Linked DNA regions of Homo sapiens: region 1 is linked to region 2. Evidence: fine-mapped QTL for protein levels in blood plasma. A gene starts in region 2. The other region holds a variant in brackets. All regions are shown on one strand. Distances are between the middles of the regions.

Region 1 (16,863 bases), 21 kb after region 2:
TTGTCCCTCCCTTTACTCTTTTTTTTTCCTTCTTTCCACCAATCCAGTTCCATCCTTCAAAGAAGCATTCTTTCAGCCTATGCCCCTCTACACCATTTATTGACAACACCGCTGCTTTGGCCATTTTGCTCCACAGTCTTTAATTCTGTACTGGCGGCTCTTGATATGAATACATTCTCCTCTTAGATTATAAGCCCCTGAGAGCAGAGGCCATGGCTAACTCATCTCTCATTTTTCCACAATAACTGCCAGACTATGTCTCAAGTATTTACTCATTATTGGACAAACACTTTTCTGATAAAGCAAAAGTTACTAATCATGATTATATAAATGTCAACACAAGTTCAAACACAAGTTGGGCTCACAGTGTCCTCCTGTCTTAAAGGTTAAAACTGAATAATGCAGAACAGTGCTGGTAATTTGGGGTCCTCTACAGCTGATCTCTTCAGTTGCCTGCAGGCTGCCAGATAAACATGTGTTATTACTTCAGGTTAATGCTCATTTACAAAACATTCACTGGCTTTAATCTAAAGTGGCAGTTTTATGTACAGCTTAGATGCAAATTCTGATCATGGAACTAGATGGTACATACATACTGTAATAATTCTTTTACAAAAAAGTGTGTAAAGAGAGTAAAATAAGCTATAATATATTGAGAGCATATTATTGAGAACTTGAAACCACAGATTATCACAGACCTAAGGATAAGAGGACTCGGGCGAGAACTAGAAAGTCCGACCACAGGCCTAGCAAAATGTAATTGATTCTGTATGTTGTTTTATTTTATTTTTAATGAAATTACATTGTAGAAGGGTGAAATTCTGGATCTCTGCCAAAATGAAATCTGTGTTCCCTTAGTTTACAGGTACAAAATCTAAGGTGGTAATACAATCTTTAGGCAGAGAGAAGGCAGAATTCCCAAGTGAATAAATCTGATGCAGGTTTTGAAAGACTGATTTAAAAGTCTACGGCAGGTATCGCAATATCTTTAGTTTTTTGTTTGGAATTTTATGGGCTGATATGTAGATATCTAACATTAACACAAAGCAGAACATAAGTAATTTATCAGTAGGATACTAACATGTTATGTTGGAAAGAAGAAAAAAGAGATTAAATTCAATTGGAGCAACTAGTCAAATCTTCATGAGGAGATGACGCAGTAAGCTAGAATTTGAAGTAAAAATAGAAGAAAATAGTGGAACTCTAGTCTAAAGAACAGTGTGAATAAAAGCATGCTGCAAAAAACAGCATGGTGTTTGAGGCAGTAGAATGAGGCTGGAACAAAGGGTAAACTGAGGGAATGGTAGAGCAAAAGACTGGAAAAGCATGTTGGAGCAAGATCGTGAACCACCTCCAGTGCCATGTTAAGCAGTCTGACAATAGAGGATCACTAAAGTATTCTGAGGAGGGCTGTAGACAGAATCTGAGGAAGATTATGATGACAAGGTGAAAATTAAATTTTAATTAGGCAGAGGTAGGGGGCAAAGAGAACAGGGAAAGCTTTTTTATACTTGTATAGAACAAAGTGATACAAAAGGGTACCTAGGGATTATTTGTGTCATTAACAGAAGAAGGAAAGTGTGTGAGAGATAGGGCTGGGGGACAGTGTGCATGAGCAAGCTTCAGAACTTTGGGGTGAGAGCAGCATAAAGCTAGAGATGACAGTGAGCTGAGTTCGGGACAAGTTGATTAAGTTCTTTCCCAGCCATCCCTTGAGAAGAAAAATACTAAGCTGTAAGGGCATAAATGGAAACACTCTAAGAATAATTATGGGATTCTGTAAAATGTATTTCTGATAGCTAGAGTGTTGATTCACTCTAAGAGACATTGGGCAAATCAGCACTTTCGTCTGAATTTATTTTTCCTCAAGTTGATCTAAGAGCCTAGTGTTTTTTCCCAAAAGATAATACAATGAATTTTATGGTCTTCATCTGTATTCAGTTAATCTTGTTTCTGTAATCTGATAGGGTTTCTTGATACTTCTTCCATCTTTCTCATTTCCCCATATATGTATTTTTGCACATCTAGTCTCTTCATCTGAACAGCTTTGGGCCCCTTTTCCCTTTATTTAGGCATGCCCATGTGTTTTACCATCAATTTCAGGCTAGTACTACAATTCCTTTGAATGCTTCTAACTATACAGGATAATTTTCTTGTATGGAAATAATGCTGTTTTCTTGTATGGAAAATTATATTGGCATGAATGGGCAAACAAGACGGCTTATCCTCTTCCCCATTTTGTAGGAAATCACAAGTGTCATAGAGTATTCATTTGCAGAACGTTATAGATCTTATCCATGAGTAGCTGATGGATTATAGATCTTTGATTCAATTAAGTTAGTTATTCAAGAATTTTTTACTGAGGCTAAAATTGCTTGAGGGCTGTTGGACACTGAAGATAGACTGGAAAACCATACACAGCCCTTGATGGAAGGCAGACACTTAAAAATGACTATTTAAAAAGTGACAAATTGTCCAATGGAAGTATAGAGGAGACCAGGGAAGTATATTTTGTCTAAATAATAAATCACAGAATATAGAATGAATTATATTCAGGCATTTAGGGATATATAGTAATATACATTTTATTACTCTGATAGAATTTTAAGCTATGCTAGTGATCACCGGGGAATTTTTAATAAATAAGTAATTTGCATTTAGCATAGTAGCTAATTTAAACCTTGGAGGAGTGTTTCATTACATTCTCCCTCGGGGTTGAACTATTAATAACTTATCTTTAGATATCCAGTAAGAAGGGATGTCTGAATTAGGATATATGTTATAATCCAGCACATATGTCACCTTCCTTTACTCCCTGTGTTAGCTACCTCTGATTCAAAATAGAATAAACTAGTCCATCTTGTCATAAGTCTAACAGAAAGTTATATACTATCCAAGACTGTATTTATGATTGTTTTCATATTTCAAATAATTAGAAATGTGAAAGCTGGCTCCTCAAGAAAAGACAAATTCAGTGACATGAAAGTTGAAACTGAGATGTTTTAAATGACATACTGATGCTTTTAAGTATTTCTATTTTATAGTACACACAGACAAAATTTCATATTTTTTAGTGCTTACTGTTTCTTTAGTTGCATGTCTATTTCTCATAGTTACCATTAAGAAATCTTGTTCCTGATTTTGTCTGAAGACAACGAAATTACCAGGTAATCTTTTGAAAAGGAGAATAAAACCATATGCTTTTAAAAAGCCAATGAAACAATGTGACTAGCTAATTTTCTCTAAGTGAACTCCTTTTAGAATCCTTTAGCAAAATTCTTTTTTTAACTTTAAAACATTAAAGGATTAGAAAATAGTCTCTTATGATTCCAAATCACCAGTAGCCGAAAATGAGGATGTTCAGAATTTAAAGTGGAAAATAGAAGCAATCATTAATAAAGACCAAGCCCACAAAAGCCTTTGCTTTGCCTCAAATTCATGGCCATTTCAGGTAAAAGCATTGTTTTCTAGATTGTTTTCTCCAGTATGTATTTTCTAGTGTTGAACTGATTGCATACCTTAAACTTAAAAGCATTATGTACTTCATTTTAGTACATGTCTATGCATGTGAACACAAAATGTCTCAAACAGCCAGAAAGTTTTGAGAGGTGAAGAGATGTGCATCATTTAGGCATGGTGAAATGCTTTAGTTTAAGTTTATGAAAACTTCCAAAATTTTCTGCATATTTAAGCGCCTTGTATGTATTTTCTCTTCATCTCTACAGATCTTCATAAACAATGAATGGCATGATTCAGTGAGTGGCAAGAAATTTCCTGTCTTTAATCCTGCAACTGAGGAGGAGCTCTGCCAGGTAGAAGAAGGAGATAAGGTGAGTTTCTGAACACTAGTTTCATTTTATGCCAGGTTTCTTGGTTTTTTGCCATTCTGAGCTCCTGAACCCCATTGCAAGCTCCAAAAGACATGCCATGAAAATATGGTTTCTGGGGCAGCTTAGGAAAATTGTCTAAGTTGTCCTTGTTACCAAAAAAAAAAAAAATGCTCTGTAGTTATGTAATAATGATAAACCTGTGCTTCTGGGTGTCATGGTGATTTTTTTTCACATCATTTTCCTTTATTTTCAATTGAAATAGTATATAGATTTATTTTACAGACTATATAAGAAGGGATTGATCATAGGTTATAAAGTAGAGAAATCTTCAGCTGGGCGCTGTGGCTCACACCTGTAATCCCAGCACTTTGTGAGACCAAGGCAGTTGGATCACTTGAGGTCACGAGTTCGAGACCAGCCTGGCCAACATGGGGAAACACCGTCTCTACTAAAAATACAAAAATTAGCCAGGCATGGTGGCACATGCCTCTAATCCCAGCTACTCAGGAGGCTGAGGCAGGAGAATTGCTTTAGCCCGTGAGGCAGAGGTTGCAGTGAGCCGAGATCATACCACTGCACTCCAGCCAAAAAAAAAAAGAAAAGGAAAAAGGAGAGAAATGCTTTATTCATATGAAATTGTTCTTTTTATGTTGCTAGATAAAACTAAAAGTTATTATAGAACTTTTAGAACAATATATTACTAAGTTATTTTATTAAAAATCACTGCATTAATATTATTATTCAACACCTGTAAAAATTATATTATAGAATAACTTAAATTGACTAACAAATTACAAGCGTTGTTATTTTCCAGCTAATAATAGAAACAACAAAAACCAGTTTTTATTTAGTGAAAATTGTTCTCAAGTTCTAAATGCTATCTTCATTTAAAACTTAAAGCAACCCTATAGGGCAGGTACTATTTTGAGTCATTTTTACAAATAATGATGAGATGGCAGAGTAGAAAGGCTGAGTAATTTACTCAAGGTGACATTGCTAATAAGTAATAACCTCAACATTAAAATGCTGTTCCTCTGACACTATAACCTGTGCCTAGTAGGGCTACTGCTTCACTTTGTGATTATTATGAAAGTAAGATAGGGTTGGCCGGGCGCAGTGGCTCTCACCTGTAATCCCAGCACTTTGGGAGGCCGAGGCGGGCAGATGATCTGAGGTCAGGAGTTTGAGACCAACCTGACCAACATGGTGAAACCCCACCTCTACTAAAAATACAAAAATTAGCTGGGCATGGTGGTGGGTTCCTGTAATCCCAGCTACTGGGGAGGCTGACGCAGGATAATTGCTTGAACCCGGGGGTCAGAGGTTGCAGTGAGCCAAGATAGTGCCATTGCACTCCAGCCTGGGCAACAAGAGTGAAGCTCCATTAAAAAAAAAAAATTAAATAGTCTTTCTTATTATGAAAGTAAGATATCCCAGCACTTTGGGAGGCTGAGGCGGGCAGATCACAAGGTCAAGAGATTGAGACCATTCTGGCCAACATGGTGAAACCTCGTCTCTACTGAAAATACAAAAATTAGCTGGGCATGGTGGCGCATGCCTGTAATTTCAGCTACTCGGGAGGCTGAGGTAGGAGAATCACTTGAACCCGGGAGGCAGAGCTTGCAGTGAGCCGAGATCGCATCATTGCAGTCCAGCTGGGTGACAAGAGCGAAACTCCGTCTCAAAAAATAAAAAATAAAAAATTAGATAGCATAATATTAAATAAACTTTTTATTCTCCTCCTGGGTGAGGAGAGTAAAAAACTTCAGAATATTTTTCTGAACACGTAAGTGTTTCTAAGTCTAATTTGAAATGATTTTTCTGCTCTTTAGTTGCCCAGGGGTTGCCAAGTTTTAAATTTCTGTAAAGAAGTAATGTTTTATTTTATTTTATTATTATTATTATTGCTGCAGGAAAAGACTACTGGGAAATTAAAGTCAGCAACACCCAAGGATAATATTATTCATGACAATGTGTTTTAGTTAATTATAGCGATCACATGTTCCTGCCAGTCTCCTGCCCAGTCTTTTCCATTACTTTAGCCCCAGTAAATGAGATCACAAATCTCAACGTACTGGGCCATGCAGATACTTATTCCAAGATAGTGACA[G/C]ACCTGAGGGGGCCCTTTTAGATTTAGGAGAGGCCCTTGGTTCAGATTTCAGTATGATGAAAACAAGTAAGACCGAAGTCTCAAGCCACAGGAGTACGGAGTTCAACCATAGGGGTTAACAATTTGAGAAGTAGAAACAAAATAAAATGATGACAAATGTCACTGGCTTTCAGATTCAGATTTACTCTTTATACTGAAGAGTTCACCAAAGCATAAATTCTCCATTCTGCTTCTCACTGTCTGTGGGAAAAAGTGCACAAACAAAGGTCCTTTATAATATTACTCAACCTTTGTTTATGGCCTCTTTCCCAGGCCACCGCATTAACTTAAGACTTTCAACTTCGTCATGCCCAGTGTCCATCCCCAACAATTGCTTGCTAGTCACTGCCTCTGTACATGTCCACAGTGTAGTCCTCAGGACCTAGTTCAAGTCACCATCTATAGTAAGAGCGTAGATTTTCAATGTTTGTACTTAACCTTCTTTGAGATTCTGTTCTTTTTCATGTAAAATGAGGAGATAGAAAATGCTTGAGGAGTTAAATATATAGAGCTCTTCAACGGTGCCAGGCATATCCTAAACCTTCAGTCATGCCCGGGTTTTATACTTATTTAAAGCCTTCTCTAACCTTCTCAAGCAGACTTACTCTCTTCTGTGTGGTTATAGGACATTGTATTTGCCTGTATTATAACCTTTGTATTATACAGCTATAGGTTAATTTGTCTGAGACAATATGCTTCTTGCAGAGATCAACACTGCATCTCTCATTTATATCCTTGGTTTCTGGATATAGTATATCCTATAAGTATGCTATACTATATTCGATAGATATACTATACTATAGATATAGTATATTCTATAAATCTATGAAGTAGTCTTCTTTTTCATCAAGTGTTGAATTTCCATACATTCCACATTCCTCACCTTAGGAATTTAGTACTAACCTGACTATTGGCTATGGCAGACATTCTCAAAATTTAGCCTGTCTCAGAATGTCCAGGAAGGCTTGTTAAAACACAGATAGCTGAGCCCCACCTTCCCCTAGGTTTCACTGCAATAATCTTAGAATGGGACCTGAAAATTTTCATTTTTTATCAATTCTTTGGTAATGCTGATGTTGTTGGTTGGGAAGGAGGTGAGGGAATGCATCTTGAACCACCGAACTAAAGTGTTAAGCTGTTAAGTTGTATCTCCTCTCAAGCGTTAACATTTAACAGGGGTCAAAGAGTTTTGACACCTAAGAAAGTTAGTGATTGAAAACTGTACTGTGGTGATCACTCTGCACCTCTCTGAAATGCTACCAAACCAAAATTGGGCATAGAAATACTGATCATCCCTGGCAAGGTCTATAGGAGCCCCAGAAGCCTGTGCCCTATAAGCCATTCCCAGAAATAAGAGAGAAATTTATTCTTCACCTTTCAAAGAAGAATGAACGCCTTTTATCAGAGACTTCAGGAGATCCACACACCACCACCTCAAATGTTCCTCTAGTTGCTTGAGTGGCTCTAGCAGGCCTGGGAAGGTGAGAAAAGCAATAAAGGGCAAGGACAGAGTGAGCCCTTGAGAGCTACATACTTTCTCTCTCCATTCAAGAGGAAGGCCAGATCTGTTTGCAGTTTGCAACTAACAAACAGAAAAATATTATTGATGTTTTAGTTCTGGAGCCTTGAACATCGACCTTTGCCACTGGGATTAATTTTATTAGGAAAACAAATCTCTATGCCCAAAGTTCCAGTTGAAACCTTGTCAGGCAGTCTGAGGACTTTTCTTAGTGAAGTTTGTGGGATTTACCTCCTTCCTAAAGTATAGTAAGGGAAAGCTAATGATCATACTGGAAGACTTAGAAATGTTTGCCACTGATTTGCTCTGTGCTTCTTGACAATTACTATTGCTTACCCAAGAGATCAAGGATGCTCATTAACATCTACCCAAGCTTCAAATCAGGTCACAATGCCAACTGAGTTGGCTGGTCAACTGGTTACTAAAACTAAAATGTTGATGGTATAAACTGTTCATGGTAAACCAGTTTGAACATCTAGCACTCTTATCATCACATTCTTTTTTGAATTATTTTAAAACATATTTTTAAATAATTATTGCTCTTCCCACAATTTTGCCGACAAATGTATAGTAAACTCCGACATTGCTTAGTGAAAGGTACAAATCTAGTAAATTACATAGTCACAGTAAACCTAATATGCTGTATCTGACTCTGTAGATAATGAGCCAAGAGGTTTTAGGGATTTAATTTGTAAGTAGAATGGGGCTAACAATGGGCTACATACCGCCTTTCAACGGTATTATAAAGAAAAGAGGAAGGGCAAGAACAAATGGAGGTTACAAAGCAAAGTACAGATGTGGGTGGGAACTGTTTTCTTTTCACTTCAGTGGTTCTTTTAGGCTATATTGACTAATCCTGAAAACTGCTTTTAATACTAAGGCATGACCTAACAAATAATTGGTGGGGATAAAAGTAAATGTCCGTTAAAGTAAGTGCCTTTGACATGTGTAAAAGTAAAACTGGTCTGATAACTATTTTCTCCATCTCTGAATGAATTTAATATGGAAATGTACCATCTGGGAGTGATGGAAGAGTTCAGTCCTTCCTTAACTGTGCTTTAGGAGGCATTTGATATCTCATCATCATTTGAACTGTCTTTTTACATTCAGCTTGTGGCCCTTACTTCAAAAAAAGGAGCATTTTCAGTGCTATAAGCAAAATTGTTATTGATGGTGGCAAATCTGAGTTAATGTACCAAATTGTTTTCTGTTTAATTAAAAAATTATATCCCTGAAAATTCCAGTTCTGAAATAAAAATTTAAAAAATGCTAGTCCTGGAATTAAGAAAACAATAACTGTTATGTCTAACAGTTTTTGAATAATGTATAAGTTTTGTTGTATCATGGAATCTATTAAAATATGATTTATTATGTAAATGCCAATGTAGTTAAATTAATTATGTAAGGCACCCCTTATATAAAATCAGTACAACATGATGAGTTTATAAAACAGGTAACCAAATTATTCAAAATTTATTTATTGCCCATTGTAGACCCAGAATTGTAAGAAATATTACAGTTTACAAAACAAATAGCAGTATATATTTGTTGCAAAGGAGGTCATTATTAGGGCAGCCTTACAGAGATGTAAGAACTAGATTTTGTAGTCAGATGTGGGATCAAAGGTTGATTCTACTGTCTGCTAGATTTCATATCCATGAGCCATAGTCTATTCATTTATAAACCAAGGCTCATGATACTTAATAGTAATAGTAACTATGGGGCTTTAAAGAACTTTCCTTAGTGCCTGGAGCTTAGTAGGCTCTTAGCTAGTAGCCATCATCAAGCTGGACTAGTCTGGCAAGGTTTTAGGTAGATTGATATTTGAGCTGGGTCTTAAAGTATATATAGGATTTAGAAAGTAAGGGAGTATACTGGTATAATATTCTAGGCAAGGAGAACTACAGACACAAAAGTAAGAAGGAGTTGGGTCAGATAGAGTAGAAAAAATGTAAACACTAAGTTTGGATAGGTGAGATGTGGTCTGAAAATCCTGGGCCTTGAAAACCAGGGAGGACTTTGACCTTGAGATTGTAGATGAAAGGGAACAGGTGTAAACATTTGAAAGACAAAGTGATAAGATAAAATTATTTGCAGAAGATTAGCCTGGTGATAGTAGCCAAGATAGTTTGAGGAGAGAAGAGAATGAACTTGAGACAGCATTGACAATATGAAATAATAGGGCCTAAAATTGTTCAGAGCAGTGAAAACTGAAAGGAAGGATTAAAATACATTAGAACTTGCTAGGTGCAGCAATACACACCTATAATCCCTGTGTGCCTGTAATCCCACCACGTTGGAAGGCAAAGGCAGCCAGGTTGCTTGAACCCAGGAATTTTAGACCAGCTTTGACAACATGGCAAAACCCCATCTCTACAAAAAAATTAGGCAGACGGTGGCTCATGCCTGCAATCATAGCACTTCGGAAGGTCAAGGTGAGAGGATCACTTGAGCCCAGGGGTTTGAGACCAGCCTGGACAACATAGCAAGACCTCATCTTTACTAAAAATAAACAATTAGATGGGCATGGTGATGCACTCCTGTAGTCCCAGCTACTCCAGAGGCTGAGGTGGGAGGATCACCTGAGGCTCGTCAGGAGGTCTAGGCTTTGGTGAGCCATGTTTGTGCCACTGCACACCAGCCTAGGCAACAGAGTGAATCTCCCTCTATTGAGAGAGGGAGAAATTGCTGAGAGTTATATTAAAATTTAAAGTTTTAACTGCTAGGACAACAGTAACAATTGCCACCATTGAATAATACATAATGTTCTAACATAGAAAATGTTTAAATGTTATCTTATTAATCTTCATTACAACCCTGTGAGGTAACATACCCCAATTTCTTTTTTCTTTTGTCTTGCTTTTTCTTTTTTTTTTTTTTTTTTTTTGTTTTGAGATGAGGGTCTTACTCTATCACCCAGGCTGGAGTGCAGTGGTGCAATCTCAGCTCACTGCAACCTGCACCTCTCAGGTTCAAACGATCCTCCCACTTCAGCCTCCTGGGTAGCTGGGACTACAGGCACACGCCACCACACCAAGCAACATACCTTGATTTTAAAGAAAAGAAAGCTGAACCTTAGAGAAGTCATGCCACAACATATTTCATGGTTTATAATAATGTTTTGGGATAGTGATTTGATTGTATGTCTCTCCCATTTGATTGAATATTCCAAAAGGACAATCTTCTTACTTCACTCTGCTGTCTTTAGCGGAGGGATGATGAGAATGCTGCAGAGTCGAATATTTATCAAACCTTTAGCTAGAGGGATGAATGGTTAGATGCCTCAAGGTTTACACAGCTAATGAAGAGGAATCAGAATTCAAATCTGGGTTGTTTTCATATCAAACTATATATTAACTAACATTACTGTATTTCTGCATCTGCAAGATTACATATAAGATGTGAGAAAAGGGGGCGCATGATCCAAAGGACATAATCATAAGAACATCTTTATTTATAGCAGCATTCTTTAGGGATGTGCTTTCCATATGGGAGAGTTACTTATCTTGAAGCCAGTTCTCCGTATCCCTTTGGGAGGCCAAGATCCCTATGATAGCCCATATTTGGCTAAGACCAATAGCAGGACACTGAACAGAAAGATCCAAATGAAAGCTGTGTCATACAGATCTGTTTAAACACAGACCAGCATGTATTTTATAAGCTCTGGTATCCACAGATCATGCTGACAATCTCAGATTTTTGTGGTTTGCTTTTTCTTTTTTTCAAACAGTGCTCTGTAAATTTAGGAAAAAGTTAGAACGTGTGGCATGAAACAATGTCTAAATATAAGCAATCAATGTGATTAACTGAATGCCGCAAATATGCACTGTATATGTATTTCTCAGGAAAGGCAGGCAATAAATACATATATTTTGTATATATCATCATTCTCTGAAAAGTTAGACAGTGAGATATATCAGTGTGTGATGTATTACACTGAAAGAATCTTTGCTTGTAGTCAGTAAATATTATTACTTAATCAGACCAGATTGTGCTTCTAAAATATCTCTCTTGCCCCAGATCATATTATTTTGGTGATAAATACTAGAAGAATAGTTTTTTTGTATTTTAATTCACAGACTTGTAAGTGTGGGTCTTCTTGATTGAATATAGCCTAAGGAGGAGGATGTTAATTTGAGGTCCATTTGAGGGGAAGATATCTCCTTAGATGGGATTTAGCTTAATTGTGTACAATTTTTTAAAAAAATCTAGGGTCATTACTTTTTCTCTCCCCCAATTCTTAAAGGGAATTGTGTCTCCTGCAAAATATTGCAACCTACTGGCCTGTGATATAGCCACTATTTGTGGAGCTATACAATTCCATGTAGTGGCCAGTTCTATGTACAAAAGAACACTGGAATGATATATTCCTTTATGGTGTTTGCAGTAGTAGTAGGTATGTTCTGTAAGAGCTCAGAAGAGGTCTGAACAGGGATCTGCAGGGGAGTGGAGTGGTCAGGGCAATATTTGTAACTGAGGTGAATTGCAAAAGAACCAGAGAATATATCTGGTGTAGAAAAACACAACAGAGAAAGAAATTGAGTGAAGGCACTATGAGAGTGAAGGACAGGAGGCTACACTGAATGTGGAGTCACTTTACTCTTTGACTTTTACTTGAATTAATGTAGTTTTAAGCCATGCATCTTTAATAAGAAACTGACTTCTTTATCGGATTAGGGATTTAAAAGGATCTCTTTGTACCCAGTTGGGAAATGAGAGGTTGTCACATGCACATCCTACTCTATTAGTTCCACTATTTCCATGCCCTGTTCCCTCTGCACAAGAGGAATGAGCACATGTTTCTAAGGTTTATTCTTCAACAGCAAAGCAAAGTTCTTATTCACCCTTCAATAGGCTCTTCATGAAAGTGGACAGGCTGTTGAGTCACCAGAGACCAAGGAAGATATTCATTATTTTGGATCTTGAGCTTGACCTGGAATTCCTGTAACCCAGTCACTAAGAAAGTATAATGTGTGGTAAACAGCAAAGATTCTACAATCAGATGGGCTCCCTTTAAAACTCAGTTCAGCCACTTTTAGTTATTAACCTTGAGCAAAGCTCCCGTCTCTCTTTGCTTTAGTTTCTTCATCTGTAAAACAGGGAACATATTTGTGCCATAAAATTAATGAGAATTAAATGAGCTAATAGGTATAAAGTCATCAGAACATTACTTGAAACAGGGCAAGCACTCAGATGATAGCAACTATTAAAATCATAAAACACTTATATTCTAGGAAATCCAGCATGTGCTAGGTACGTGGAGCTCATCATGTAAAGATTATTCAGCAGGAGTAATTCCAACATACAGTAGTTGAATGTGCGCAATGTGTTAGACTTTGGGATAATGGAGACACAGTGCCTGCTTATGAGGCACTACAGTCTATTTTACAGGGTTATTGGCATTAAATTTGCTTGCCTAATATGTTTAGCTTACTGAATTGAATTCCTGTTGACTTACAGGAGGATGTTGACAAGGCAGTGAAGGCCGCAAGACAGGCTTTTCAGATTGGATCCCCGTGGCGTACTATGGATGCTTCCGAGAGGGGGCGACTATTATACAAGTTGGCTGATTTAATCGAAAGAGATCGTCTGCTGCTGGCGGTGAGTATTATCCAAGCTGGATGGGTAGCTAGAGCTCTCAAAAGCATTCAGCGTTTGAAATGGCAAGTTGTTTTGATTTTAGGGATCACTATATGCTCTCTACAAACAAAATGAAAACATTTTTTGTCCCAATGAATAGGCCCCTTAACATTGAACTATTCTCAAATAGTAATCTGCATTTCAATTCTGGATGATGTTAATTTCTGCTCCCATAATAGATTCTACGGTCTAAACTTTAGCAAACCCAAGTTAAACCAAATTTTAGAAATTTCTTTACCTTAAAACTTCTCAGAGGTTTCAATAAGATCACATGAAGTTTGAGTCTCCTAGAATGATATATTAGGTTTATTCAAGCATTTGACCACTGAGCTCTTTTGATGGAAAAACTCAAGTTTGTTAAGGGTGCCCAAAATATTTCTCTAAAATAAATCTTATTTCTCATTAGTCTAGCTCGCTAAGATATTTAATAAATGGCTACTTTTTTTCTTCCTGAAATGTGTCTGTTCACAAGGGTCATAATTAAATGATGTTCTTTTTACAGATGAAAGAGGCAAAAAATAAAAAAAATCCAATTATTAATGTGGTTTATCAAAATCATGTTTTTATGAATACTATTTTTGTTTGTTTATGTTTTAGCAGTTAGATGAGTCAGAGCATAATATAGTTGGGGGAGGGTATTTCCTTGTTTCTGTTGTCTCAATTGGGCATTATGATGAAGCCAATTTAACATAAACAAATACCAAGATCAGGTTTCAAGCAAATTTCATCTTTAGAATCTGAAAGTGGCAGTAACAAAGAAGTCTACATTTTTAAAAAATCAACATTAGCATGTATGGTTAATAGCAAGTATGGTTAATCAAAGGACCATTTATTACTCAAATATTCAACATAATTTGAAATACACAAAAATTCAGAACGAGCAGCTATGTGCAATAAAACTATAGTAATAAAAATGACCTGTAGGAAGAAAGCAGAAAATGCTAAAACTTGGCTTTTCTCAATTATCTGATTTGTTGACTGCCTGTCAGCATAAGATCCTATAGAGAGAAAAGTACAGGCATACAAAAGTCACATTTGGTTAAATTTTGACATGATAGAGAGTGTAGTACAGAAACAAATAGCTTTAACAGTTCATCACCTGTGCATTTCTGCCAGGTAACCACCCCAGCAGAATATTAGATCTCAAAGAGCTTAAGGTCCTGCTTAAGAAGAGAAGCCAAAGGGGAGATAGGTCATCTTATAATGGTTAGGGCACATGACTAGAAAATGTTTAACTTTACCTGACCATTAAAACGGCAATTATGACAATAATGGCAACACTGGTAGTTTCCTAATTAAAATTCTGCTGAAGGAAATTCATGGATGAAAAATCCAGGCATTACTTAAGTTTGTGTGAGTAGACTGTGTATATCCAGATGGAATGTAAAAATTAAAAATGATTACTGAGCCATCATTAATAGTCACTGACACTAAGTTGTCACCCACAGTTGATTACAAAATAAGAGAAACCTTGTTGGAATTCTGATAGGACTTAGAAGACTAGGTTTCATTCTCAGATGTTATGTGTATATCAAATTGTGACCGATTCCTAGAAAGCTGGTTAGCAGGAGAACATCAAAATGAGATAGAAAGAGCACTGGGGTTTAGAAATCAGAATCTCACTACCCTTTGTGCCCAGATCTTGCTATTTGACCTAAAGGAAGTCATTTTAACTCTTAAAAAGTGGAGGTTAGACAAGATGACAAGATTTCTTCTATTTCAAAAATTCCCTAGCACATGATTGCTGAAAATATTTACTACATATTTTTAATCTAAAACTTATGGAATTTTAGATTTGGTGTTTGACATGTTTTTCAGACAATGGAGTCAATGAATGGTGGAAAACTCTATTCCAATGCATATCTGAATGATTTAGCAGGCTGCATCAAAACATTGCGCTACTGTGCAGGTTGGGCTGACAAGATCCAGGGCCGTACAATACCAATTGGTAAGTATCTTTGAGAAACCACTAATGGTGAGGATAGGAGCGAGGAGTTTACTATAGAGCTGAATAATTTCAAACTCTCCCTTTTAAAGATGTCAACCAAATAAGGCAAAATTATTTTCCTCTTGACTTTGAGACAACACAGTTTTCAACTTAGAAGTTCTATTAAAATTCATAAAAGGTCTTTTAAAGTTGTTTCAGCATAATCATGAAGATAACATTATAGATATTTTAGAAAATGTCAAAGTAAGAACATTCCTTTGGCAGTAATTACTGATCTGAGGCAATTGCCTCTCTAAGGTCCCAAACTTTTTAAAGCTGACCTCTGAAATTATTTATTTGGGTTTTATTCCAATACTGACATTTATATCCTTTCTGTAATGTAATTATTTAAGCCTCTTTACATGTTCCAGTATAAGTCAGTTATGGTCATCTGTGCCTGGTCAAACTCAGTGTAGTTAGACCAGACTAATCAAACAAGCCAGTTCACACGGACTCGTTTCAAATATCTTCAAAGCAAGATGGGACTGTGTTTGCAGCCTAAGTTAAGGGTTTGTGTGTGTGAATCTGTACGTATGTGTTATTTTAGTGGGGTATGCACATAATGGAGTAGAAATACTAAAGATATTTCATGTGAAACATGAAAACACACACATTTAGGAAACAGTATGGGTGGAATTTAATTCAGGCAAACCTATGAACTTTAGGAATACAATACCCTCCAGGACTGGCCCTGATGTGCACTTCCAATCCAATTGGAGCATGCAGGAGGTCAGAAGTGATAGCAGAAAGTTGAGAGGAGAGTAAGACCTCGGTGGTACTAAGAAATGTGGCTACTTTAGAACTGTCCTACTTTACTCCGGGACAAAATGGGAGAAGTCACTTAAAACACAAATAGATCTTGATGAAGAGAGTCCTTGCTGAAACCAGGAAGCTTCTGTGGGAACTAGAACAGAATTGAATGTAAAGCATAATGTATCTCTCTGGATGACCACATTAAACTTCGGGGCACATAAATTGGTCAAATTTAGATTGAAAATAAATGTCTTATACTCCTGTCATTTTCTTCATGTATTTAGAGAATTTGCTATTATTGTTTGGTAGGCAAATAAAATACATTTTAGAACAAGTCAGTAGGAAAGGCTTATTACTCATAGGGAGATTTTCTTTTTAATTCTACTGTTTTTAATTTTACTATTTCTAAAAATTATATTATAACTTTTAAAAAGAATTCTCTTATTGGTAGAACTTTGAGCTACCAGAAACAAATTGGAATGTGGTTCTTCTCTTCGCCAGAGACCTCCTACTTCCTTTCTCGTCCCTTTTTTATAACACTTAGAGAATAAAGATAATTTTCAAATCAGGCCTCCTAGAAGATGAAAGGTGGAATTAATTATCTTTCAGATTTTTGCCAATTTTGCCTCTTTGATTTCACCTAACTCAATTTTATGGTTCCTATCATTTCGAATTACTATTTTAGGGCTTCACTTACCATTTTGGGAATAGTTGGAGATATAGATGGTCTCGATCTCTTGACCTCGTGATCTGCCTGCCTCGGCCTCCCAAAGTGCTGGGATTACAGGCGTGAGCCACCACACCTGGCCAGATATATGTTTTTAAAATTATTGTCTACACCTTTCTCTCACATCACCAACCACCATTTTGTGAATGTCAAATACATTTGTTTATATATGATTGTGTGTGTTTTATTTTTCAGATGGAAATTTTTTTACATATACAAGACATGAACCTATTGGTGTATGTGGCCAAATCATTCCTG
Region 2 (16,863 bases):
AGTAATATTAATATGCATTAAACATTGAAGTAAATATCCAGAACAATGATGTTGCAATGATATATGTTGGGAGAGATGTAAATAGAATTTAAAATGTTCTATTGTGTTTGGATTCACTGAGGAAAAGAGTAAAAGTACTAATTAATTTTAGTCTTTGATAAATTAAAAAATACATGCAATTTCTAGAATAACCACAAAAAGAAGAGTAAAAATAATATATAATTCCAACCTAATACAACAAGGAATTCTAATCATAACTATGAGAGATGATTGATATGGTAGTTTGCACTAGTAATCATTTTACAATGTATACATATATCAAATTATAAAGCTGTATACCTTTAATATATAAAATTTTTATTTGTCAAGTATACCTCAGTAAGTCTGGAAAAACTTAGAAAGATCCAAGTCGTTTATCACTTATACTAAATATAAAAAATACCAAAAAATGACTGTGAAAAATTAAAGAAGAAATAAATGGGATATATATGTCATATTTGTGTGTGTGTGTATTTACTTATTCTAAACTTGTAAGCACATAAAAAACAGCCTTACTCTTGTAAGCCACAAAGATTTTGCGGTTGTTTATTACTAACCAATAGAGAAATTTTAAAGTGCACATCAAAATAACCCATGAATCAAGGAAAAGATCATAATGGGAGTTAAAAAGTATTTTGAATTGAGCAAACGAGAAAATGCTATACAGAAACTTATGGATGCTGCTAAAGACATGCTTAGGGGGAAATTTAGGGCTTTAAATGAAAAAAAAAGAAAAGCTGGAAAATTAAATATCTAAGTATCAAGAAGTTAGAGAAGGAACATCAAAACAACCTAAAGAAAATAGAATGAAGGAAACAATAAGAACAGAAATTAATAAAAACAAACAAACATAGAGAGGATCAACAAAGTCCAAAATTCTTTGAAAAACTAGTCCAGGCGCAGTGGCTCATGCCTGTAATCCCAGCAACTTTGGGAGGCCAAGGTGGGTGGATCTCGAGGTCAGGAGATGGAGACCATCCTGGCCAACATGGTGAAACCACATCTCTACTAAAAATACAAAAATTAGCCCGGTGTTGTGGCACGCACCTGTAGTCCCAGCTACCTGGGAGGCTGAGGCAGAAGAATCGCTTGAACCCAGAAGGCAGAGCTTGCAGTGAGCTGAGATCCAGCCACTGCACTCCAGCCTGGCGACAGAGCGAGACTCTGTCTCAAAAAAAAAAAAAAGAAAAAAAGAAAAACTAGCAAAGTTCACAATCTCCTGACAAGACTGGTCAAGAATGTGAACCTCTACAGACTCTCAAATAGTGAAATTAAGCCAAGAAGGAAATACTGAGATTAAATAATGAATAATAAGTGAAGAAAATTTAATAAACAGGTAAAGTAAAATAGGAATTGAGTGAATAAAATAATAATGATATAATTATGACTCATTTGGGTGCTATAAATCAAGGTGGAACAAAAATTTATAACAGACAACGATAATATGTAGAATAGGACAATGAGAGTGTTCAAAAATCCCTGAATTCTTTGTAAGAAAAAAATAGTAATTATATTTACATGTAAGTTTGTTAAAATTTTTAGGTTAACAAAAAGCATTTCTTCCAAACAAGAACAGAAGTGAAAAAGTAGGAATAAATAAATTACTAGTATTATTATTATTAATATTATTATTATTTGAGATGGAGTCTTCCTCTGTCGCCCAGGCTGGAGTGTAGTGGCACAATCTCACCTCACTGCAACCTCTGCCTCCCAGGTTCAAGCGATTCTCCTGCCTCAGCCTCCTGAGTAGTTGGGACTACAGGCACATGCCCCCACGTCTGGCTAATTTTTGTATTTTTAATAGAGATGGAGTTTCACCATGTTGGCCAGTCTGGTCTCAAACCCCTGACCTCAAGTGATCTGCCCACCTTGGCCTCCCAAAGTGCTGGGATTACAGGCGTGAGCCACCATACCCGGCCAGGAATAAATAAATTATAATCAGTAAAACAGAAGATAGGCAAGAAGAAGAGTGTGGAGCAGAAACTGCTAGTTACCTCTGCAATAGTCATTCTCCCCATTTTTAATACAACAAGCACTCCTTTCTTTTTTATGTGTAAACTTTAAGTTCTGGGATGCATGTGTAGAACATGCAGGTTTGTTACATAGGTATACACGTGTCATGGTGGTTTGCCGCACCCATCAACCCATTATCTACATTAGGTATTTCTCCTAATGCTATCTCTCCCCTAACCCCCCCCACCCCCCAACAGGCCCCCGAGTGTGATGTTCCCCTCCCTGTGTCCATGTGTTCTCATTGTTCAACTCCCACTTATGAGTGAGAACATGCAGTGTTTGGTTTTCTGTTCCTGTGTTAGAGTGCTGAGAATGATGGTTTCCAGCTTCATCCCTGTCCCTGCAAAGGACACAAACTCATCCTTTTTTATGGCTGCATAGTATTCCATGGTGTATACATGCCACGTTTTCTTTATCCAGTCTATCACTGATTGGCATTTGGATTGGTTCTAAGTCTTTGCTATTGTGAATAGTGCTGCAATAAACATACGTGTGAATGTGTCTTTATAGCAGCATGATTTATAATCCTTTGGGTATATACCCAGCAATGGGATGGCTGGGCCAAATGGTATTTCTAGTTCTAGATCCTCGAGGAATTGCCACACTGTCTTCCACAATGGTTGAACTAATTTACGCTCCCACCAACAGTGTAAAAGCATTCCTGTTTCTCCACATCCTCTCCAGCATCTGTTGTTTCCTGACTTTTTAATGATCTGCATTCTAATTGGCATGAGATGATATCTGATTGTGGTTTTGATTTGCATTTCTCTAATGACCAGTGATGATGAGCTTTCTTTCATATGTTTCTTGGCCACATAAATGTCTTCTTTGGAGAAGTGTCTGTTCATATTCTTCTCCCACTTTTTGATGGGGTTGTTCAGGTAAATTTAAGTTCTTTGTAGATTCTGGATATTAACCCTTACAAGCACTGATTTTTAACTATGAACCAGGCTACCTAGAGAAAGCTTACAATCTTTATTTACCCTTATAGCTAGGTATGGACATGAGACTAAGCTAAGGTCAATGAGCTCCAAGCTTCAGGGAAACCTCCTCAAAATGTAGATGGACCCTAGAGCTTTGTCACTTTCCTCTGAGTCCTGGAATTTAAATGTAATGGTTGGAGTTCTAGCAGTCTTCTCTTATCAGGAGGCAAAGAGCCATACCTTAGGGATGTTAGAGCAGTGAGCTGGAAGCAGCCTCTGTCTTTCCATTCTGACACCATGGCTGCCATGGACAACCTGCTTACAATCTGTTTATGTGAGAGAAGAATCCATTTCCATCTTGAATATTTATTTTGGGTTTTGCATCAGAGGCAGCCAAATTTAATCCTAACTGATCTAAAGACAAAGAGAAAGCACAAGTACATCAGTAATTACAATAGATATAAATAAAGGAGTAAATATATATACACATTAAATACATATTAAACATAAACGTTAAATAAAGACAGGTTGGATAAAAAGCAGTCCAGCTGTATGCTCTTTAAAACCTAAATCTAAAATATAAGGACACTGGAAATTTGAAAGTGTTAATTTGTTTCATTAAATAAAATTAATATTTTAACAGAAAAAAAAAAAGTCAAGAAACTGCCAATGCCTGAAGTTCGGTTGGTGTTGTTTTGTCCTAATCAGAGACAGGAAATTCAAGAAAAAGATTATGTTGCAAAAATGATAATGTGTTCCTTTAGTGGTCTTAAAATATAAAATAAAGGACTAGGTAGTAACCTAAGTGAAAGGCGACTAGAATAAATAATAGAGATAGATCGAGGTCTATGTTGGAGTGCAGTTATTCTCAAAGTTGAGCATGAATCAGAATCACCTGGAGGGCTTGTTACACCACAAATTGCTGAGCCCCACCCGAGAGTTTCTGATTCAGTAGGTCTAAGATGGGGTCAGACACTGCATTTCTAAAAGATTGCCAGTGGATGTAGTTGTTGCTCCAACTTTGAGAACCTTTACTACTCAGCTTCATGGTTGCATTATGAGGAAATGGAACCCAGAGCTGCTCCAATGATTCTGACAGCTGACCACACATTAGAATTACCTAAGGCACTTTAAACGCACTTGGGCTCAAACTACTCCTACAGAGTCAGAATCTTTTATTTTTTGTTTGTTTGTTTTGAATTCCCCAGGTGATTTTAATGTGTAGCAGAGAGGCTAAAACTATTCTTCAGGTCTTCTGACAGTTTAAGAAGTTAAAATCTGGGGTTTAAAATGTTTCTAATTTGTACAGTATTGCACAGTCCACATAAAACAAATATGCTGGCTCTCAGGTTTGCAAACCCAGCAACATGATGAGGTGTGGCATTTAGCTTAGTTATCTGACCAGCAGTTGAAATGCAAAGCCAGGGCCTGGAAGATAAATTTGGATTGTGGTCATAGATCTGGATATGTATGTATAACTTTAAAATGTGAAAACAAATTCAAGCAAGCAAATGCAAACCAAAAGTTTTATATTCTCCAAATATAATAATTACTTTAAAAAGCAAAAGCTTTCACAGAAATCGTTATTTATTGCATAATACGTTTGCAATATAATAAAGATTTATAATGCAACCAAAACTGGAAGGTTTTTAAAATGTAACTCTTTCTTCCTCTCTCACCATATAACATACTTGCTCCTTTGCTTCTGCGATGAGTAAAAGCTTTCTGAGGCTTCAACAGAAGCAGAGCAGACGCTGGTGCCATGCTTGTTCAGCCTGCAGAATTGTCAGCCAAATAAACCTCTTTAAAAGAAAATTATAACTTATCTAGTCTCAGGTATTTCTTTAAAGCAACATAAAATGCATTAACATCAAAAATTAGTACCAAGGAGTGAGGCATTTCTATAAAGATACTTGAAAATGTGAGCAGCTTTGGAACTGGGTAACAGGAAGACATTCGAAGAGTTTGTTGGGGAGGGGGTACTCGGAAGAGGACAGAAAGATGAGAGAAAGTTTGGAACCTCTTGGAAACTGGTTAAGTGATTGTGACCAAAACGCTGATAGAAATATGGACAGTGAAGACCAGGCTGATGAGGTCTCAGATGGAAATAAGGAATTTATTGGAAACTGGAGCAAAGGTTACCTTTGTTATGCCCTAGCAAAGAACCTGGCTGCATTGTGTCCATGCTGTAGGGATTTATGGAAGTTTAAACTTAAGTGTAATGACTTAGAATCTGGCAGGAAAAAATTTCTAAGCAGCAAAGCACTGAAGATGTGGCATGGCTGCTTCTAACAACCTATGATCAGATTTAGGAGCAAAGGAAAAACTTAAAGTTGTAACTTATAATTAAAAGCAAAGCAGAGTGTAAAAATTCAGAAAATTTTCAGCCTGAACATGTGGTAGAGAAGGAAAGAGCATTTTCGGGAGAAGAATCCACCAGCTGGAGGAAAAACCACTTGCTAGAGAGATTTGCATAACTAAAAGGGAGCCAAGTGCTAATATTCAAGACAAGGAGAGAAAGGCCTCAAAGCCATTTCAAAGCCCTCCCACCACAGACCCAGAGGCTTAGGAAGGAAGAGTGGTTCTCGGGGTCAGATTCAGAGCCCTGCTGCCCTACACTACCTTGGGACATTGCTCCCCATACCAGGCCTCTCTGGCTCTAGCCTTGGCTCAAAAGGCTTTAGACACTGCTCTGGCCACTGCTTCAGAGGATGAAACCATAAGGCTTGGCAGCTTCCATGCAATGTTAAGTCTGCAGGTATTCAGACTGGTGCCCAGGCAGGAACCTGATGCAGGGGCAGAGCTCCCACATAGGACTTCTACTAGAGAAGTGCTAAGTGGAAATGGGGTTAGAGCCCCAAACAGAGTCCTCACCAGGGCATTGCCTAGTGGAGCTGTAGGAATGGGGCCACTGCCCTCTAGGCCCAGAATGGGAGCGCCGCCAGCAGCCTGTACTCTGAGCCTGGAAATGCTGCAGGCATTCACTCCAGCCCTTGCAAACAGCCATGTGGGTTGTGCCCAGCAAAGCCATGGGGACAGGGCTACCAGAGGCCTCAGGACCACATTTCTCACACCAGAATGCTGAGCATGGAGTCAAGGATTACGCTGGAGCTTTAAGGTTTAACAACTACCCTGATGGATTTTGAACTTGTGTAGGTCCCATTGCCCCTTTCTTTTGGCCAATTTCTCCCTTTTGGAATGGGAATGTTTACCAAGTGCCTGTACTACCATTGTATATTGGAAGTAAACAACTTGTTTATTATTTTACAGACTCACAGGTAAAAGAAACTTGCCTTGAGTCTCAGATGAGGCTTGAGACTTCGAACTTTTGAGTTGATGCTGGAACAAGCTAGGATTCTGGAGGACTATTGAAAAGGAATGATGTATTTTGCCATGTGAGAAGAACATGAGATTTGGGGGAACTGGGGCAGAATAATATATTTTGGATGTTTTTCCCCCACAAATCTTATGTTGAAATGTAATCTCCAGTGCTGAAGGTGGGGTCTAGTGGGAGGTGTTTGTGTCATGCAGGTGGATCTCTCATGAATGACTTGGTGCTCTCCCCACGGTAATAAATTTACAGGAGAGCTGGTTATAAGAAGAGCCTGACACATTTCCCCCTCTCTCTTGCTCCCTCTCTCTCCATGTGACATATATGCTCCCCCTTTGCCTTCTGCCATGAGTAAAAGCTTCCGGAGGCTTCACCAGAAGCTGAGCAGATGCTGGTGCCATGCTTGTACAGCCTACAGAAACATGAGCCAAATAAACCTCTTTCTCATCTTTACTCTCTCTATATATACACATACATATATATACATAAATATATATGTATATAAAATATATAAAACACCTGATGAGTTTTTCATTGTAAGGTACAGATAGAAAGCTTACCTTTATTTAAATTAGAATATTTAGATAGTAACAATAAACCTGAATGACACAAAGAATGACGGGTGCATGATCAATGACAACATATACATTTTGACACCTATGAACTTGAACTTTTATTGATTAGTGCATTAGTTTCCAATGGCTGCTGTAACAGTTATAAACTTGGCGGTTTAAAACAACACTTTTAGAAGCCAGAGATCTGAAATCAGTTTCACTGGCCAATATCAAAGGAGTGGACAGGTCAGGCTCTCTCCAGAGATTCTAGGAAAGAATCCATTGTCTTATGTTTTCCAGTTTATAGAGCTTTATTCTTTAATTATTTGTCTTCTGGTCCCCTTCAATAGCTTCAAAATATTGATTCATTGCCAGGGCAGGGGTGGTAAGAAAAGTTGTTTATATGAAAATTAAACTGAATATATTACAAACAATATCATCAAATTTCTAAACACATTGTTGGATAATCTGCATGAGAATTATAAAAAAAAAAAAAAGAAAAAATTGTGGAAATCTCAAAGTAGTCTACATTTTGATTGACTCATTGATGTCTTTCATGTCTTTCTTTCTACACATTAAGGAAGCAAACTGGAAACTAGACAAAACACTATGAGTACTATTTATGCAAGATTATTTCAAATTCCAAGCAGCAAATCCAGTTCCAAGAAATGGCCTCAACCCATAAGGTTTAGCAAAAACCTATTTAAACTCAAATAATTATCTTACAGAGGCTTTAATGTACTGTTTCTTTTAGTGACCTTACTAATCAGTTAGTGTCCTGGTTAGACCAGATTAGAGGGGCATCTATCCTATCTCAGTAACACAAGCCAAAGAGAAGAACAATGAAAAGATATGTAAAGAGCAGGAGAAATCAGAGGTGAGGAAATTTTTCCAATTGAAGAAGAATGGCATGTGAACAGAAATTAGTCAACAAATACATATGTTCATATACTTGAATTCTGCCTTCCACTTCCATTTTTAACATCAACTTGTCAACTAAGTACAGACTCTCTCACTACATACAAGATCCACTTTTCCCAAATTATTAAAACTCAAATAAGCATAAGAGCAATGTGGTATCTGATAAAAATGTAGTAATCAAAAGCATAGGGATAGATTTCTTGCTAGGTTTACCAACAGGCAGACATGCTAAGGCAACAGAGAATAGTTAGGGGAGTGGTCATGTAACTGGAGTAGGAGAGGTTCATCTTCAATAAATGGTTCCAGCATCTTGAAATCAGGAAATATGAAAAGAAACTGTCTTAGTTCATTCAGGCTGCTATAACAAAAATTAATTTCTCACAGTTCTGGAAGCTTGAAGTCTGAAATTAGGGTGCCAACATAGTTGGGTTCTGGTGAGAGCCCTCTTTTGGGTTACAGATTGCCAATGTCTCATTGCATCCACACATGGCAGAAACAGCGAGAGATCTCTCTGGAGTCCCTTTTATAAAAGCACTGATCCATTCATGAGGGTCCTACCCTCATAACCTCATTACCTCCTAATATGATTTGGCTCTGTGTTCCCACCCAAATCTCACCTTGAATTGTAGTTCCCATAATCCCCACATGTCATGGGAGGGATCCGGTGGGATGTACTTTAATCATGGAGGGGGGTTACCGTCATCCTGTTCTCATGATAATAAGTGAATTCTCATGAGATCTGATGGTTTTATAAGGGGGTTTTCCCCCTTTTGCTGAGCACTTCTCCTTGCTGCCACCATGTGAAGAAGGACGTGTTTGCTTCCCCTTCCACTGTGATTGTAAGTTTCCTAAGGCCTCCCCAGCCATGCTGAACTGTGAGTCAATTAAACCTCTTTCCTTTATAAATTACCCAGTCTCAAGTATGTCTTTATTAGTAGCATGGGAATGGACTAATACACCTCCCAAAGGCTCCATCTCCTAATACCATCACATGGGGGGTTAGGATTTCAACATATCCATTGTGACTGGACAAAAAAAATTCAGTCCATTGCAGAAGCTATTTTTAATTCATCATATGACTTTTTTCAACATTTTTTTAAAAATTTTAAGTCCTGGGTGGCAGATTAGGTTCCTTTTATCTTTTCAGGAACTGAGGATTGGACGGAGTTCTGGAGATGTTTGTTGTAAAATGAAAGAGTAGTTTCAAGAATGGTTGAAGTCATAATCTATATGTTTCTTGGTATAATGAAAGCTTTCACAAATGGCTGGAGAAGTCAAATTCAAGAGATGAATAAACTATCCTCTTATGTTTCTTGCTTCTCTCTCCATATGTGTGTGTGCCTGTGTGTGTGTGTGTGTGTGATTTAGTTTGTTCATAAGGAGGAAAAAGAAGATGAAACATCATTTGTCGATTACTCTCAAGTTAAAGGGACAGCTCCTCCTCTGCTGCATAGTCCTGGCATACCATAAAAACGTACAATCCTGGGTCCAGTTCTAAAATGTGCAACCTTGGTCCCTAGGTTCTCACAAAAGCCATTATTTCCTCTGTAAGGAATAGAAGTAGTCTGATGAAATCTTTTCCTCATATGCAGCAATTCCCAGAAATATGCTATTCTACAAAATAAGCTCTCAGGGCAGGATGATGTTTACCTCAAAAATATAGGTCTCAGGCCCTGTGGTTTCTAGGCAGAAAAGATCTGCTTAAGTGAGGTTAGGGCTAAAGAATTATGGATGCATAAATGATACTTAGTAAATATTTGCTGAAATTAAATGGGCAGGTGTGGTAACCTGTCTCCAAAGCAACTCCTTTTGCCTACATTCAGGAATGCCTGGTATAAAGGGACTGTTCTTACATAATTATCCAATAAAATACAATTGAGAATGATCATATAAGAAGTGAGATGACAAGCCAAGTATGTTATGAAGCCTTGAGCTTTCATCGCCTGGACATCAAATAAACCAGTATTTGAATCCACAAACAACTGTGACTCTGGGAGAAGAAAGCAGCAAAACACAGCTGTTTGGGCATGGCCAGAGCGCCACTCTCAAGTTATGTAACAGCTGTTGTGTAATTGTGCATTTAACTCAAAACACATTTTTGAGAGAGAAAACAATTAGACTTTCCAAAAAGAAAGAAACAGAGAAATGTTGAAAGAACACAGAAGTTTCTATCTGGTCATCAAACATAAGACACGGGGGAGTCAAAGGCATTGGGAATGATATTGCCTTAGAATCTAGGGAGTTGGCCCGTGCACCAAATCTGGCCTGCCTTCTGTCTTTTTAAATAAAGTTCTATAGGAAAACAACTACACCCATTAATTTACCTATCATCTACAGTTTCTTTTAAATAGAGTCAAGTAAATTATATCAGAAACCATCCAGCCCAGAGGCTGAAAATATTTACAGAAAAAGTTTTGCAAATTCTTGTCTTAGATGAATAAAAAGTTATGTTTAAATGCCTGTAAGGGTGACTATTCACTGAGAAAACCAAAGCAGTTGATGCTTGAACCCATGTAGGAGTTCTCTTGTGGAGAATAGGGTAGAAATAGTAAACAGAAATAAGAGTCCAGGTTTGGGAGTCAGACTGGCCTGAAATGAAATTCTGGTCCTGCACTAATAGATCTGTGACCATAAGTAAGCTACTCACCCTCTGTATGTCTCTAAAATGGGGATATGAAATGAGGGTAGAAAGGGAAACAAGTGCTGCACCTGATTTGGGCAAACAATTCAGAAATTTTTAGTTTCCCTATGTAAGTCCCATATTCAGGGGAATTGGCAAGTTTCACTAGAAAAAAAAAAATTGGTTGATTCTCCACAATCAGAGCATCCAGAGTATTTTATCTTGTTCCTATTGTAACGTTTGCTAGAGCTACAATACAATAAAGTATTGTACTTAAAATGGGAGTAACACTGTTTAAAAAATTGTCCTTCAGCTAAATATTAATTTAAGAACTTGAATTGTTTGGAAGCCCTGCTTAAATTTAGTCTTTGTACACTGCCTATGTTGATAAATACAGACAACTTCCAAAACCAGGATTACTTTCATTTTAAATGAGTATTAATAGATGATATTGCCATATTTCTAATTGTGGTGATTGTGTGTGACAGTGTGTTCCGAATTCCCTAAAAGTCCTGCTGGCTTTTCTGTTCACATATAGAAAATAAAGATAATTTAGGGCTTCTGAGATCACAGTAGGTCTACTTACCCAGCACTGAAAATACACAAGACTGATACGATATTTTAAAACTAACTTAGGGTAGGGTGTAGATAAAGGGCCTTTCTTCCCCAAACAGCACCTTGATTTTCTGGGAGATGGACTGATTTCCTGAAAGCCTTGTCCTGAAGACACCTGGCCAGCTTCTACTGAGAACAAGTGCCCTTTTAGACTCTTTTCAATCCTCAAATTCTCTGATTCCAAGTCTGTCAGAGAACAGAAAGTTACATAGTAGCATTAAAAAGCATGAGAAGTCAAAAAAATAATAACTGGCCTTAGTGGCCAGAGCAGCTGCTGCATACACTTATCACAGGTTTCGGCTTTGTAAATTAATTCATCTGCAAATAGTGCACTGTCTCCAGGTACAAATTCGATGCTGGAGCACTGGTTTCTTAAGGATTTAAGTTTAAAGTCAAAGGCTTCCTGCCCTAGGTGTTACAAATAAGTAGTGTCGTTTTCTTTTTTTGCTCTGAGTTTGTTCATCCAATCGTATCCGAGTATGCAAATAAACTTTAGCCCGTGCAGATAAAAAAGGAACAAATAAAGCCAAGTGCTCTATCAGAACCAAATTGCTGAGCCAGTCACCTGTGTTCCAGGAGCCGAATCAGAAATGTCATCCTCAGGCACGCCAGACTTACCTGTCCTACTCACCGATTTGAAGATTCAATATACTAAGGTGAGTAAAACTTCTATTTTCTGCTTTGACTCGGGTTTGCAAAAACTGCATTTATGTAAAGCATTAAAGGTCAATTTAAGTAAACTTGTGTAAAGAGCCCTTTGCAAATATAAAAATAAAAGGCATGCAAAATGCAGGTCTCAGTTTAGTGTCCTGATCAAATATGATCTAAATCATATCAGACAATCTTTCATAAATTTATTTCTTAAAATATTTCCAAGCGAAAGGAATTCTCTTCTGTGTGAAAGGATTCTTATACCAGGATTCAGAGGACTTTACTAAGCACTTCTATTAACTTCACTATAGCCGGCATGTATGATAAGAGAGCAAAATACTCACTAGAGAAGCTTACTGGAAAGAACCAAACGAGTAGGAACAATAGAAAGCAAACAAGGAGAAAGAGAGCATACTGAAATAACATAACTTTCCAATATGTTTAATAAAATGAGTGTTAAAATAGGGGGACTTAAGTCTGATAATTGGATTCGAAAATCTTCAGATGGACTTGCATTATTTTGCATATTTTGGTGGGAGGAAGAAAAGCATTATTTCTTCAGCCAAGTTTGTTGCCATTGGAGCAGATGTGTAATTGTTAACTGATAAATATTTAGAGAAACAAGAGCAGGAGCTAGATCCAGACTTTAAAATCCGCAGCTGGGGGGAACTAGGAAATGGATCCTGCTTGAGTCGTTCTGAGAGTAACTCTGAACTTTGCCTGTTTCACACTGCTTTCCTGTCAGATCCTAGAACTCCAAAACAAACAAATGAATAAAACACAATCTAACCAAAATTACTTGAAGTTATCTTTATGGTGTGATGCAGAAAGTATGGTAAGAAATTAACTCTTGCAAATCAAGAGAGAGCCATTTTGCTGTCTGAATTAGCCAACAGAAAAACAAAGGGCATTATAATTTAATGATAAAGTAAAAGTCCCCACTGTTATATATTTATTTCCTCACTTGTAACCATGGATGGCTTTGAAATCCCAAGGTCTGTTGCATTTTCATTTTCATAAAGCACAACAAATGAGGAAGTTGCTCAGCTGATTGGCTCTTTTCCTCAGGAAAGTAGCAGCAGAGATCAGATTGTGCCTTTAACATGGTTGACCAGCAGCTATGAAGTGTATTTTAAGGTATTGTTATCACGAGGTTTTGTTAAAGAGGAAAGATTTTTTCCATTTAGTTTTACTACAAATGGTAGCATGAAAAATGCAGTAAATCCATACCGTCAAACAATTTACATTTGGCAAAGGTATGTCCAAAAGGTTGCAAGAGTCCAGTCTCCCTCATTTTCTTATTCCAAGTTTGTCATTCACAAGAAATTTCAATTGAAAGTGGGTACATTTAAAAATACATTTCATGAAGCTCAAAATTGTCGACAATGCTCAGATTATTGTATTACTATTATTAATGGGATTTTTTTTTTAATAATACTACCTAGGAAGATATTTTGGTAGTCTGGATGCCCCTGTCTCCCCACTCCTTTGGCTTTGCAGAAGTTTGCAAAGTCTTCCTTGTGTGTGTATTTCAAGGAAGCTCTAATGTAAATAACCTTCCTGCTAAATTAAGCTTCACTTAGTAGTCATTAACTAAGCATGTAAGAAGCGGTACTAGACAAATGAGATGGTCCTAAAAATCTAACATACAAGCACAGACCTAATGAACCCTTAACACAGAGAGATGATTTTGAGATTGAAACCTATTCACTTCGAAGTCACTGTGCAACAACTCCCCTCTAGGGAAAGTGACTGACCTAAGTGTCCAAAAGAAGGCAAGACTCAAAGAGCAGGCGTTTTGCTCTGTGTTTAAGAACTTTTCTGGGTAAAAATACTCCAAACAAGTCAGTGAATTTTGATTTCTCGTGCATCTTCTATATAAATCTGTTCTGCTCAGATAGCATTTTATTGTTTAATTTATTGGTTACAGCGTTTTCACACTTGGGAGGACGCCAGTTATGTATGTAATTAAATCTAAATGGGTGAACTTTTTCAAATGCCTTCGCATTTTTTGTTTACTATGTCCCAGTGAAGAATTGGATTGAATTTGCTCTTGCAAGAGGAGTTAAAAAAAAAAATGATGGTTATTAACTATAAAAAGTTCCCTGGTTACAAACCAAGTAAGCAAGGAGTTTATAGTGTCTGAGGAATTATCTTCTATTACCAGCCCCTAAAGTCTTGTGTTATTTTTCTGTTACTATTCTAATGTCCTTTTTTATTATTATTATAGCTAGAAGTATATTGGTTGTTAGGACAAGTTGGAGAGAACAGACAGGGTTGAGTAAAAAAAAAAATATTACAACTACGATAGAAAAGCTACATACTCTCAAGCTTGGGACTGCTTTTCACCCAAACAAAAGAATTTATTGATGCATATGTTTTTATGACTTATTTTCTAGTACAGTCTGATTATTTCTTTGTTGGGGTAGATTAAAGAGAGATCAGAGTTTAAGAAATGCTTTCTAAAATTATACAAAAGCTTTTGGAATTTAAAACCTCAAAAACATCGCTATAAATTCACTAATATGAACTCATATCCCATCCTTATCCTCATTACTCCTCTTTCCAACTCTAAATGAACCCCACATTTTCCATTTTATTGAGCCTTTAAATGAAGAGATTCTTTGAAAGTTATGTGATCATTGGGCAAGCTACATTACTTCTCTCTGCCTCGGTTTTCTTATGTTTAAAATGGGGATGATAAAGGCACGTATTTTCTAAGGTCGATGAAAGTATTAAACGAACTTAATGCGTACAAAGCCCTTGAAATAATGCCTGGACATGGGAAATGATTTAACGTTAGTGATCCTAGTCCTATTTTTCTGAATCCTTTCCAGTTTTTCCAGAATATTCCCTTTTACCCAACCTTTCCTAGACCTGTTTCCTACAAGTATGCCTCACGTCTTCTCCTAGCTTTTCTGTCACTCTTTTTTGTACAGTCATGTCCCATCTGACAAAGATTGCATCAGAGTGAAGTTCCAAGGGTCTTCCAAGATTTCAGGGATCAAAAATTTTCTCCTACAGGATTCGGTAACTTTGTTTGCCATTCTCTCTTCACAATACTGTTGTTTTACCTTTTCTTTTTTCTTTTTTTTTTTTTATAAAAGGGAAATAGGAAATTCAAGAAGACAAGCATTCTCAGACAGAATTCAAACGCCAAAATGTTTAACTTAATTAGTAAGCTTCACTTATTAAACCATGGTTTGTTCATGCTACAAAAGACCTTCATCAGCTAATGACATTTTACTCATACATACACACACACACACACACACGCACACACACACACACAATAAATAATTATAGGTAAAATTTATTGTGCTTACTCTGCCATGACTGTTTAAGTTCTTGACAATGATTTTATTTACTCCTCATAATAACCCTATGAGGAGGTTACTATTCCTGTTTCACAGTTCAGGGAACTGAGGAACAGAGCGGCTATGTAACTTACTAAAGTTACACAGCAAGTAAGTGACAAAGCTACACTGCCAATGCTGGCAGTTTGAGCTAACACACTAGCAAGAGACTTGTCTAAGGTCAATTCCACTACTCTGGGACACTGACTTGCCAGAATCCTCTTGTATCCTTCTTCATCCTGACTTTCATTTGCCCATTGCTGATTACCATGGTCTTTCCAGCTGCTGCTCAGCTGTTCCCAGGCCAATAAGAGAAAGTTTGCAGCCAACTTAGAAAAAGAGAACAATAGGGAAATTGAAAGGAAATAGGTTTTCTGCTTTGACTGAAAATGTGACGTTTGGGCTAGGAGAGGCTATGAGGCAGAGGACTTTGACATGGATGTGAAATGTCTGTGTGAACTACATTTCTTCAACTCCTATGGAATCGATTTTGGTTAGAGTAGGAGATTGCTTTCCTAGATTTCTGGTTTTGTTTAACCCTTCTGGGTTAAAGAGATATTTTCAATGGAGAAGAGTTATGAATCATTGAATAATACGTCCCAGGCACGATTTGAAGTGCTTCTTTTCCCCCATGATTATCTCTTTAAATTCTTACAACAAACAAATTCAGCTACATGAACTTCCAAATACCTCCTTTGTCCCCTTTGCTTGTTTCTCCCTTTTGCTTTTCGTTTCTCCCATATTTCCCTTCCTCTTATTTAACAAGGCCTTGAATGAGTGCCCTATGCTAGTTCTCATGATATAAGAGGGCTAATATGATTCACGTCTCATGCAGCCTCTGTTCCTGGAAGGTGTGTGGAATAGTGTGGGGCAGAAAATAAGAGAATGCTTTAATCAGAAATTAGGATAAATGTTTAAAGCAAAATAACTGAAAGCTGAGAGGATATGAGTAGAAGAGCTTTTGATGAGGATTTTTGGGAAGGTGCTTTAAAGGTAAGCCTGAGGGATGTAGAGAATAAGGTGGCCAAGAGTAGGGAAGAACAAAGATCCAGAGGTCTTACCACATGCAAAGACCCCGAGGACAAGAGCATGTTATGCTCAAAGAACTATCCAAAGGCTAATCTGGCTGGAGTAAAGTGAATAAGGGAGAGAATGGATGAGATGAAACTGAAGTACAGGCTGGGGCCAGATCGGCTGGCGGATTTTGAGGAAGATCACTGAGAGGTGCTTAAAACAGGAAAGGACTTATGTTCAACGCAAAGCTGATTGTGCTGTGATGCTGCTTTCACTTGGGAAATGTTTTTAACTTCCTTCCAACTGAAGCAATATTTTGTTTGCTTTGGGCTTGGAAGCAGGTGAAAAAAATAGCTGACTGGCTGCAAGGTGCAGTGACTGAACAAGCTAAACCTGGCTTCAATTTCCAGCTATTCTATGTATTTAATTATATGACCTTGGCCAAGCTTCTCATCCCCTGGAGCTTCAGTTCCTCTGTCTGTGAATTGGGAATGAGAATGACTACCTTGGAAAGTGGCTGTGAGAATTAAGTGAGGTAATTTGTGGAATGTGGCTGGCACTTATTAACTACTTAGTCCTTTCTCTCCTTGATTCTCTTTCCCAAGATGACTCCTAGAATTATATGATCATTCTGTTCTCAATGTAAGTTATATTTATATTGCTTATCACAGCTCAAAACTGATTTCATATATTTCTCTCATTTGAGGTGCATCATTAACCACTGAGAGGAGCTAGAAAAGATGTTAGCAGAGTCCCATTTCAAAGCTGAGGAGCCCGAGCTCAGAGATCATGACTGACTTAAGGTCACATAGCTCTTAAAATGCAA

Alleles and levels. Positions count from the first base shown, and alleles are read on the strand shown. Strength reflects both the effect of a copy and how common the allele is.
As copies of C replace G in region 1, the plasma level of the protein whose gene starts at base 11,554 in region 2 goes down (weak association).

What was found. PIP is the chance, under the fine-mapping model, that this variant and not a neighbour inherited with it causes the effect. The UK Biobank Pharma Proteomics Project read protein levels with antibody pairs (Olink). The fine-mapping took linkage between variants from a reference panel, not from the people measured, so its PIPs are less certain.
Region 1: its variant is fine-mapped to the plasma level of the ALDH1A1 protein (UK Biobank, PIP 0.97).

What each region holds. Positions count from the first base shown.
Region 1 is chr9:72,927,115-72,943,977 of GRCh38, reverse strand. It overlaps ALDH1A1 (aldehyde dehydrogenase 1 family member A1), which reads left to right. Exons shown (of 13, transcript NM_000689.5): 2 at 3,726-3,830; 3 at 12,959-13,099; 4 at 14,957-15,086; 5 at 16,801-16,862. Among named protein-coding and RNA genes, the nearest start is that of ALDH1A1, 18 kb to the left of the region's middle. The variant G/C (reference allele first, on the strand shown) is at 5,941.
Region 2 is chr9:72,947,744-72,964,606 of GRCh38, reverse strand. ALDH1A1 (aldehyde dehydrogenase 1 family member A1) reads left to right here and starts at 11,554. Exons shown (of 13, transcript NM_000689.5): 1 at 11,554-11,672. The coding sequence starts at 11,607.